2 separate regions of the Homo sapiens genome follow, and region 2 is linked to region 1. The links come from fine-mapping of genetic effects on gene expression. A gene starts in region 1. The other region holds a variant in brackets. All regions are shown on one strand. Distances are between the middles of the regions.

The links. PIP is the estimated chance that this variant, and not a neighbour inherited with it, causes the effect.
Region 2: its variant is the best candidate, but not a certain one, in a credible set for the expression of ST14 in whole blood (TOPMed, PIP 0.63).

What each region holds. Positions count from the first base shown.
Region 1 is chr11:130,157,156-130,162,518 of GRCh38, reverse strand. ST14 (ST14 transmembrane serine protease matriptase) reads right to left here and starts at 2,737. Exons shown (of 19, transcript NM_021978.4): 1 at 2,459-2,737. The coding sequence starts at 2,539. RefSeq lists an enhancer at 1,002-1,501 and silencers at 2,589-2,658, 2,739-2,858.
Region 2 is chr11:130,191,673-130,197,035 of GRCh38, reverse strand. ST14 (ST14 transmembrane serine protease matriptase) reads right to left here. Exons shown (of 19, transcript NM_021978.4): 8 at 2,748-2,887; 9 at 2,299-2,396; 10 at 588-697; 11 at 336-466. Among named protein-coding and RNA genes, the nearest start is that of ST14, 35 kb to the right of the region's middle. The variant C/T (reference allele first, on the strand shown) is at 2,284.

The DNA of each region.
Region 1 (5,363 bases):
CATCCGATTTTTCCAAACTTGGTCTCTGGATGCCTAAGGGATGCTGAGTCTTACCTAGGGCAATTGTGATCGGAAAAGGAACCAGTGGATGTCAAGGCAGCTTCATATTCACCATCAAATACTCAACAGGAATCAAGACCCTCAGGGAGGCAGGCTCCCTGGCTCTCATTAATGGCCATAAGAAGTGGCATCTGTTTCCCTGCTTGCTTGCAGGCAGGGCTCACACCATCCCCAGATGCAGTAACGTGCATCAGGACTCTGAAGGCCACGCAGAACACTTGATGGGAACAGCAGGGGTGGGGCAGGGGCCACACCACCAGCCTTGGGAAGGGGACAGCCAGATACAAATACCACCAAACAAGGGTGCACGGATGGATGCAACTGGGGACAAGGAACCCAGAAACAACAGCACCCTGTGGGCCAGGCTCTGCTGACCCAGATAATAAACCCAGGGGCAGCAGCCACACCTCCCGGCCGGGGATGGACATCCTAGCTGCAAACACACACTACAGGGTGATCCCAGGGACTGGGATTTCTGGTGAGGCCAGGGATGGGAGGAATCTGCAAGACATGGAAATGAGCTTTGGCCAATTTCCTCTGGACACTCCGCCTCACAGCTAACTTTGGCATTCGTCTCTTAGTTTCGCTCTCAAGACTGGATGTTCTTTAAAGGAAACAACCACATCTTACTGGTCTCTGAGAGCCTTCCCTTCACCCATGGGACTAGGTACTGAGTTAGTTCAATAAAGCTCGGCAGGAGAAAAGACAAAGAGCAAGCCAAGAGAATGAAAATGGCAGAGGGGGAAGGAACAGCCCAAGGGCGCAGAGAGCAAATGAGCTTCGCAGAGGAGGAGGAAATGAGCAGGGATGGGGGAAACTAAAGCCAGGGCTTGCAGGTGACAAGACAAGTCCGCTGAATGTGGGATCCTGGGGGTGAGTGGAAGGTGAGCCCCAGCCTGGCTGCTTGTCAGGTGGTGAGATGGCTCAGAGAGGAGGCTGGACCACACGACCAGGAAGACCCTGCTTTCCCCGTGTGGGCAGGAGAGTCCTAGAAAGGGAAGTCAGGGAGAACAAACTTGGGGTGGGGGCACCGGACTGCCCTGAAATAACAAATTCCAAACAGCAGGTTCTCTGCTGAAGAGGCAGGGAGTCTAGAACCCCAAGTAGGCAATTAGCAAGGACACAAACATAGCAATTACAGCAAGGAAGAGAAGGTGAATCTGCCTCACAGCAGGGCACAGGCACAGCCAGGGGAAGGGCCCAAGCCTTCAGGTCCACTGGAAGCTTTCCTCCTTGCTGAGGGTGAAAAGTGGAGAAAATAGCAGAGCCCAGCCCCAGGTCCTGTCTGTGGTGCAGGCAGCCTCCAAAGCCCCAGCGTCTGATTTTCTGCAAGCTCCCTAGGTCGGGATGCTGCTTGGACAAAAGGAATTGATCTGAGACAGCACCAAAATCAGGCCTGACTTAGGGAGCAACGGCGGAGACTATGGAGCCCAGGGGCACCCGGAAGGAGGGGAGAAAGTGAGGGTTGGCAGGGCAGGGAGGCCATCATTTGCAGAGGAGCAAAACTCTCTGCCACACAGCCCCTGCCTCTCAGCGCCGCCCTGACCTGGTATGCCCTGGCCTTCCAGGAAACCTGGGGGTCTGCCTTGGACAGAGAGGGTAGAGACCTGGCTGCTGGTCCCGCCCGGGCACTACCACCTAGGTGGGTCCGTCAATGAAGTGACTAGCGACCCATCCCCAACTCCATACAGGAACATGTAATCTTTTTGAGATCTTTCAATAGGTCTTTCATTGTTCTTTCTGCCAAAGAAGAGCTTCCTGTTTCGGTACTTCGCAAAAGGCTCAAGACATGTGTGTTCCCACATCCCTTCCCATACAGCCGCCTTCCCAAAGGGCTCCATCCCCTCTCGAGAAGCCCAGGCAAGCCCAACTCTGGAGTTCTTAGCTCCAGCCCGTATGGCAGCCAAAGCCCTGGCCTCCCAGTTGTCCTCTGCGAGGTCCCAAAGCGCCTTTTGACGGGGAAGGAGAGAGACGAAAGAAACTTTCTGCAGAGGCCAAGGATGGCTGAGACTCCAAACCCTCCTGAAATTTCACTTCCTCCCAAATAACCCCACTCCAAGCCCCTGGTTTCTTCCAGATGTTCACTAACAGCGCGAGAGTCATGGAGGGGCCGAGACGGAGCCCCTTTTTTCAACTCAGGGAAAGAAAGGACCGAGGGCGCAGGAAGGCCCAGGGGCTTCCCGCCTCCCCCTGGCGGGGCGCAGCCGGTCCGGTACCAAAGGTCCGGCCAGCCCCGCCCGCCCGCGGCCCGGCACCCGCTGAACAGGAAATTCCACCTGTGCGCCCAGAGCTCGGCCACCGACGGACACGCCAGGGGAGCCGGCCGAGCCCAGCGCCGCGCTGCAGGGTCGGGCGGGCAGGAGCTTCCCAGCGCCCCGGGTCCCCGGCCCGCGCTCACCTCGTGCCGGGAGTTGTACTTGAGTCCCGCGCCGAAGTCCTTCGGGCCCCCTCCGCCCTTGCGGGCCCGATCGCTCCCCATGGTCCCCGAGGCCGCTCGCGGGTCTCACAGGCGTCGTCCCTGCCGGCGGCCGGCTCCCATGGCCCGCAGGGCGCGGGGCGCGGGGCGCAGGCGGCGGGATTCCGGGCAGGCCCAGCGCGCCCGACCGGCGGCGGTGCCCTCGCCCTGGCGCGCTCTCTCTCCCTCTTCCTCTTTCTCCGGCTGCAGCTCCGCTCTCACACTCCGGCCCGGCCCACGCAGGTAGTTTCAGGGTGTGGCCTCGGCCCGCCCAGCCCGCCGCGCTCGCCTGCGCACCTGCCCGGCTCACCTGCCCGCCCCCGCCGGCCCTGGGGGAGGCTCCTCCCCTCGGCTCTGGGCCTGAAGGTGAGGGGGCCTCACTCGGGTGGTGGTCGCTAAGGCCCTCACCATCACCACGACGGCGTTCACCACCCCTCCGGCCCTCCAGGGGCCCTGCCCCGGGAGGGCAGCCCTTTATCCACCTCCTTGATGCCAACCATCTTTTCCCTCCTCCCTCATGCGCCTCCGGTCTCTCCCCTTCACCTTGCTCACTTTGCTACAGGACTAAATCGCATTTATGAACCCCCCAAAACCAAACAGAAACCAGAACCGCCCCTGGCCCAGGCTCCCCGTCGGCTACGCAGCCTCCTGTTCTCCAGGCGGGAGGCGCTTGCTGGCCTGCGCCCGGCTACCCTGGGGAGGCCCAGTGACATGAGCTGTGCCACCAGATGCCCTCTGAGCCATCCCAACGCCCCTCGCCCACTTGCAGCATCTGATGCTTCCTCAAATGCCCCCTTTCCCTGGATTCCGGTCCTCCTTTCTAGTCCTAAATGTCATGATTCCCAAAGTTCTCCCTTCAGTTTCATCCCTTTCTTCTCTAAGCTTTTTCTCTTGGCAGCACGTCTCATCTTACGACTTCAGACAGGAAGACCTCCCTCCCAGCACAGACACCACCAAGGAGTGCCAGTTCTGCCTTAGCGGTCGCCTGGGGACGTCTCCATTTATGTTCTACTGTATTCTGTAGCCAATGAACATTACCAAGCACACACTAGGCGCTAAGCACTGTCCTGGGTACAGGGAAACAGGAGTGAACAAAATAAAAATCCCTGCTTTGAGATCAACAAGCCCCATCTTCCTTCCCTGACTTGCCCATTTTCCACTGTTTTCTCTAATTCTAATGGCAGCATTCTCCCAGGCTCAAATCCTGGAATCATCTTTGATTCTCCACCCTGCTTACATCTCATATCCAATTAGTTCCAAATCTGATCAAGACTCTGCTGACAAGCATAGCCCTTCCATTCCTGCGCATTAGAAGACCGCTATTCGAGTCCTCAGAGCCCTTTGCCTGGTTAAGAAAGATCTCCTGCCTCTGGGCTGCCACCCTCTGATCTCTCCTACACAAAGCAGTCAGGTAAATCTGAAACCACAGCTCCTTTATGACTTTCCGTGTCTCCCGGATCAAATCCAACCTCCTTAGCCCAGCTTCACACTCTGCCCTGTCCTCCCTTAACACCGTGCCTCCAAGCATTCCTGTTTGGAGCCCCTCTCTCCAGCCAGGCGTTCTGATCTTGGCAGCTTTCATAAAGCTTTTCATCCCCTGGAAGCTCTTCTCCTTCATACTCCTTCCGCATATTGGGTCGAAGACACCGATGGGGTTTTTTAGTGTTGTTCATTGAATGTTTTTAGCTCTCTGCCTTCTGGGCACAGGCCAGGGTGTTACTCTCTCTTCTCTGAAGTTAGGTATGGCAGTATGGCTAGCGGTAACCAAGAAAATGTCCAATGAGAGGACACACCACTTGTACATAGCAGCATAAGGAGGCACTGCACAATGCCCTGCTCTCTTCTGAGAGGTTTAACTCTGTGACCTGTGACCCTAAGTGGCTACAATGACACACACTGGATATGTAGCATGAATGAGGAGTCAGTCAGCTTTTGGGATGTTAAGCCACCGAGAGCTGAGGGTTGTTTGTTATTGCTGCAAACCTCACGCTTCCTGACTGATATGCTACCTCCTCCCCAGGAGTTTCCTTCCCTCTCAACCAGAACTAGCTCTGTTTGTACCTCTCTCATGGAGCTCACCACCATTTCGTTGCATTTTCTGTCTGTGTCTTAACTGCCTTTGCACCCTCAAAGCCTAGCACAATGACTAACACAATATATTGGGTCAATTTAATTGAAAGAAGAATGAATCTGCTGCCTTCCATCACATAAAGCATTCCAAAGCTAAACAGAAAATATTTCTAAAAGGCTGGCACGTTGGCTTCCAGCACTTTGGGAGGCTGAGGTGGGTGGATCACCTGAGGTCAGGAGTTTGAAATCAGCCTAGCCAACATATAGTGAAACACCATCTCTACTAAAAATACAAAAATTAGCTGGACATGGTGGTGCATGCCTGTGGTCCCAGCTACTTGGGAAGCTGAGGCAGGAGAATTGCTTGAACCTGGGAAGTGGAGGTTGCAGTGAGCCGGGATCATGCCACTACACTCCAGCCTGGAGCGAGACTCCATCTCTCAAAAAAAAAAAAAAAAAAAGAAAAGAAAAAAAAGAAAAAGAAAATATATAAAAATAAATTTTCCTTTGGATTACCAATGGCACAGCATTCTTCAACTAGTGTGAGTGATGGAAAGTAAGCCAAATTCAATGTGACGTAAATGAGATGGTACTCCTGACACACAGACCTTCTGTGCTGCTGCAAACGCAGTGACTCACGTTGTCTCCCCACTTCCTAGGGCCTCATCTTTTATCTCGTAGAGCTGGGCGCTCAGCGTGATTTGGATGCCGTATGAATGCAATGCATTGACTGCTAGTGCAGATGAAGAGAAAGCGATGCAGGACAAGACCCTTCCCC
Region 2 (5,363 bases), 35 kb before region 1:
CAGAGGCAAGCACAGATGATCAAAGTCACGGTGAAGGTGGGCCTGAGGGACAGATGGCCGGGGAAGCTCAGATGAGGGGCGTCTCCAGCCGCAGGTACCTCATGCTGGGACTGCAACCCAGAAGGACACAGTGTGTGCCAGCGCTCACAGCCAGCCTGCTTTCATTAATGCATCAAAGGTAGCGTGTTTTCCTCCCAAAGCTACGGGAGGGGTGAGATGCTCTTACATTCTCCAGCATTTTAGAATCAGCAAAGCACGATGCTAACGAGATGCAGGGTAGACAGAACATGCGGTGCAGGCCCCCGCCAGCCCTCCTCCCAACAATGTTCACTCACGGTCACTGGAGTCGTAGGAGAGGTATTCAGCTAAGAAGCCGGTGTCGGTGTAGGACTGATCTGAGTGGAAGCGAACTGTGATCTTGTTGCTGTTGCTGGTGACGACGAACTGGGACCTCTCTCCGCAGTATCTGGAGGGGGGGCGGGGCACAAGGTGAGGAGGGACAGCTGGGAGCCGGGGGGCTGGGGGTCTGGTGGGACCCCTCCCCCTGCAGCATGGGCCCGGCAGCCCCCATACCCCCGGGGACTCACTTCTCCCCGTTGATCTCCACGTAGTCCTTGGGGCAGGTGCCCGCAGGCACGCCGGGCTCCAGCAGGTAGAAGAATTTGAAGCGCACCTTCACATGCTGGTTGTTGGGCACCTGAGGGAAGAGAGGCTGCTGGGAATGTGCAGTTCCCCTCCCTCCTCCCTGAACCTGAGGACGTCAAAGGGAGGCAGCGGCATGGACCAGGGAGAGATGGTATGCCTTCCATCACCAAGACAGGTTGCAAAGTTCTCCCAGCGTGTTTGTTTGTTTGTTTGTTTGTTTGTTTGTTTTTTGAGATGGAGTCTTGCTCTGTCGCCCAGGCTGGAGTGCAGTGGCAAGATCTCAGCTCACCGCAACCTCCGCCTCCCGGGTTCACGCCATTCTTCTGCCTCATCCTCCTGAGCAGCTGGGATTACAGTCACAAGCCACAACACCCAGATAATTTTTTTTGTATTTTTAGTAGAGATGGGGTTTCACCATGTTGGTCAGGCTGGTCTCAAACTCCTGACCTCAGGTGATCTGCCCGCCTCGGCCTCCCAAAGTGCTGGGATTACAGGCACGAGCCACCACACCCAGCCTCTTTTCTTTTTTTTTTTTTTTGAGACAAAGTCTCACTCTGTCACCCAGACTGGAGTACAGTGGCAAGATCTCAGCTCACCACAACCTCCGACTCCCGGGTTCAAGCTACTTTCCTGCCTCAGTCTCCCGAGCAGCTGGGATTACAGGTGCCCGCCATCACACCCGGCTAATTTTTGTATTTTTAGTAGAGACAGGGTTTCACAATGTTGCCCAGGCTGGTCTCGAACTCCTGACCTCGTGATCCACCTGCCTTGGCCTCCCAAAGTTCTGGGATTACAGGCGTGAGCCACTGCGCCCGGCCCTCCTGGCATTTTTAAAGAAAGGAAAGGGAGGCAGCTCTGGCTGGGATGGCGTGAGCGGCACGGACAGGCGACTCTCTTGTCTCACACACCTTCTTTGATTTCTTCCTGACGGCGCCTCTGAGACCCAGGCACTATCACCCTCACTTCACCTAGGGGCAAGCTGAGGCCCAGGGAGCTTCAGCAACTGCCCAGGTCGTTCCATCACCTGACAAGGAGCTAAGATAAGAGTCTGGGTCTGCCTGACACTGCAGGAAGACCTGACCCCACCCTGGGCCCTAAGACACATGGTCTCTTTGGGGTTTGTTTATTTGTTTTTGTTGTTTTTTGAGACAGGGTCTCACTGTTGCCCAGGCTGGAGTGCGATGGCACTGTCATAGTTTACTGTAGCCTTAAACTCCTGGGTTTAAGTGATCCTCCCACCTCGGCCTCCTGAGTAGCTGGGACTACAGGCATGTATCACCTGCCTGGCTAATTTTTGTAGTGTTTTGTAGAGATGAGGTCTCACTATGTTACACAGGCTGGTCTTGAATTCCTGGCCTCAAGTGATCCTCCTGCCTTGGTCTCCCAAAGTGCTGAGATTACAGGTGTGAGTCACGACATCTGGCTGCCTCTTTGGGGTTGATAAAGGATCTCCTCTTCCTTTTCTTCTGTCTTCCTCATTTGCCATCCACCTCTGTCTCACACACACACATACGCACACACACACACACACACACACATGCACACATATGCAAACACATGCACACACATCCACACACATCTGCACAGGGAGACACACACACGTGCACATACATGCTCACACACACACACGTTCACACG[C/T]CCCATAGCTCCTACCTCAATGTTCCATGTGCAGTCAATGTTGGGTGGGTAGTGGCCTGGGTAGTAGGGGCTGTTGAATGTCCCCTGGGCTTTACGTAAGCGGCCTCCACAGCCTGAGAGGGAAGGTGGGAGAAAGCAAGAGGATCAGGAACCTGCCCGGCCGAGCAGGCGGACGAGGGCTCTGCAGCCTGAGGCCTGGAGCTGCCTCCTGGACGCGTGGATGCTGCACAGCAGGTGCACAGCCAGGAAGGCCAGGTGCCGGGTGCCGAAGCTTCAGGAGGGCTCCTGACCCAGGCGGTCGGCCAGATGCCTTTGGCTCAAGCTTCAGCCTCTGCTGCTGACCTAGGCCAGCTCGCCAACCACAGGGTCTAGCCTGTGGCCTCCTAAGCTCAGGTCACCCCCACTAAGGCCTTCCCCTTCTCTGTGGCCCGAGGGCAGTCCCGCCCTGCCCTGCCCTTCCTTACTGCTCATCCTAGGCAGCTGGAAGAAGGTGGCCTCAAAGCCGGGATGCCGCCGCTCAGTGTTGGTTATCAGTGTGATGAGCAGGACGTTCTGGGAGGAGTGGAAGGTCAGGTTGTAGGAGGGAGGGTAGGTGCCACACAACCTGTGGGGGCAGAGGGCGGGCATTAGGAAGAGCAGACAGAACCCAAGCTTCTCACACACCCAAACCAGGCTCTCAGGCAGAGGTGCCTGAGGACCCCACCCCTAACTCTGGTCCCATCCACAGAGGCCAAGAATGGAGTCAAAAAGACCTTCATTCAAGTAAGTCCCTCCCCCACACAATCACTGATGGAAGGCGCTAGTGATAAACAGTTCACCTTTGTCACAATCACTGATGGAAGGCGCTAGTGATAAACAGTTCACCTTTGTCACAATCACTGATGGAAGGCGCTAGTGATAAACAGTTCACCTTTGTCACAATCACTGATGGAAGGCGCTAGTGATAAACAGTTCACCTTTGTCACAATCAAAGAGCAACACCCAGCCGGGCGCAGTGGCTCACGCCTATAAACCCAGCACTTTGGGAGGCCAAGGCGGGTGAATCACCTGAGGTCAGGAGTTCGAGACCGGCCTGGCCAACATGGTGAAATCCCATCTCTACTAAAGATACAAAAATTAGCTGGGCATCACGGTGCACGCCTGTAATCCCAGCTACTCCAGAGGCTGAGGCAGGAGAATCACCGGAACCCGGGAGGCGGAGGTTGCAGTGAGCCGAGATCGCACCACCGCACTCCAGCCTGGGCGACACAGCGAGACTGTCAGAAAAAAAAAAAAAGAGCAACACCCTAGACACAATACATGCCCACAACAGAGGATTTATTAAATAAACTGTGGGCTCAATCAGAACAACAGCAGTAGTAACAATCAACATTTATTAAGAACATGCCAAGGTCGGGCCTATAATCCCAGCCTGTTGGGAGGTCAAGGCAGGAGAATTGCTTGAGGCCAGGAGTTTCAGACCAGCCTGGGTAACGCCTCATCTCCATAATCAAAAAAACTAGCTGGGCATGGTGGCGCTTGCCTGCAGTCCCAGCTACTCCGGGGCAAGGCCAGAGAACTGCTTGAGCCTCAGGAGTTCAAGGTTACAGTGAGCTATGATTGCGCCACTGCACTCCAGCCTGGGTGACAAGGAGACTCAAAAAAAAAAACATGCCTGGCATGGTTCTCGGTGCTTTTAAATCTATTAACTCATAATCTTCCTAACAGCTCTATGAAGTAGATACTATTACCCCTATCTCAGAGGTGAGGAAACTGAGACACAGAGATGTTCAGTAACTTGCCCAACATCTCATGGTTAATAAGTGGCAGGCTTAGAATTTAAACTCAGGCATTCAAGCTCCAGAGTCCACACTGCTCACAACCATGTCATCCTGATTGTGTCCCCTCCTTCTAAACAATGCAACCTTATAAAAACCCTGAGAGAGAGGGTGACTGATTTGGAAAGACCATCATAATATACTTCATTTGTTAAAGCAGGTAATGAGACTGAATGCACGGGATAATCCTATTTCTTAACACACACACAGCAAAAAAGGCTGGGAAAATAGACATCAAAAATTTGGCCGGGTGCTGTGGCTCACGCCTGTAATCCCAGTACTTTGGGAGGCCAAGGCAGGCAGATTGCCTGAGGTCAGGAGTTCGAGACCAGCCTGACCAACATGGTAAAACCCCATCTCTACTAAAAATACAAAAAAAATTAGCTGAGTGTTGTGGCGCATGCCTGTAATCCCAGCTGCTCGAGAGGATGAAGCAGGAGAATCGCATGAACCCAGGAGGCGGAGGTTGCGGTGAGCCGAGATCTTGCCACTGCACTCCAGCCTGGGCGACAGAGCGAGATTCCATCTCAAAGAAAAAGAATTAACAGTGGTTATTTCTAGACAGTAAGATGACGAGTGACTTTAGTCTTCCTTTTGCTTGCCGATTTCCTTCTCCCACTGGGAACATGTACTTCTTTGTTGTACAATTAATAAATTAGAGAGATGGAAAAGAAGTCCTGGTTACGAAGCTGTGGCGGCAGATGGTTCTAGGTTGTTCTTGGCCTGAATTTTAGCCCATTATTAATCAGGAAACGTCCGCCGAGCTCATTTCCCTAGACAGCCACGGAAGGCTCTGGCCCAGCGAGTGCAGGAGAGGCGGCTCACCCACCACGCACAGCACCTCTGCGAGGTACGCCCCACCCTGACGTGGGGTATCCCACAGGTGCATTAACCACGCCTTTCCGTTTTCTGTAATGCAGGTGCTTTGACATCTGAGGCCCTGCTGACTGTGGAAGGCTGGCCAATGCTTAGAGATAGGAAAGGACTCACCTGCAAGCAAACCTTCCCTATGCAAACCCACCTATGGGGGCCCAGCCCCACCTCCTCCGAAAGGATCTCACACTCAGGGCCACTATTCTTTGCCCTAACCACCCCAGGCCCAAGTATCAGAGAACTAGGGACAGCTCCTATGCCCCGGAGCCTACTGAAATTATTCAAACAAGCCAGTTCTAAACCTCTCACCCTGATTTGTCTTGCCTTTTCTGTGTAAACCATATAAAGGCTCTTTTTTTTTTTTTTTTTTTTTGAGACAGAGTCTCGCTC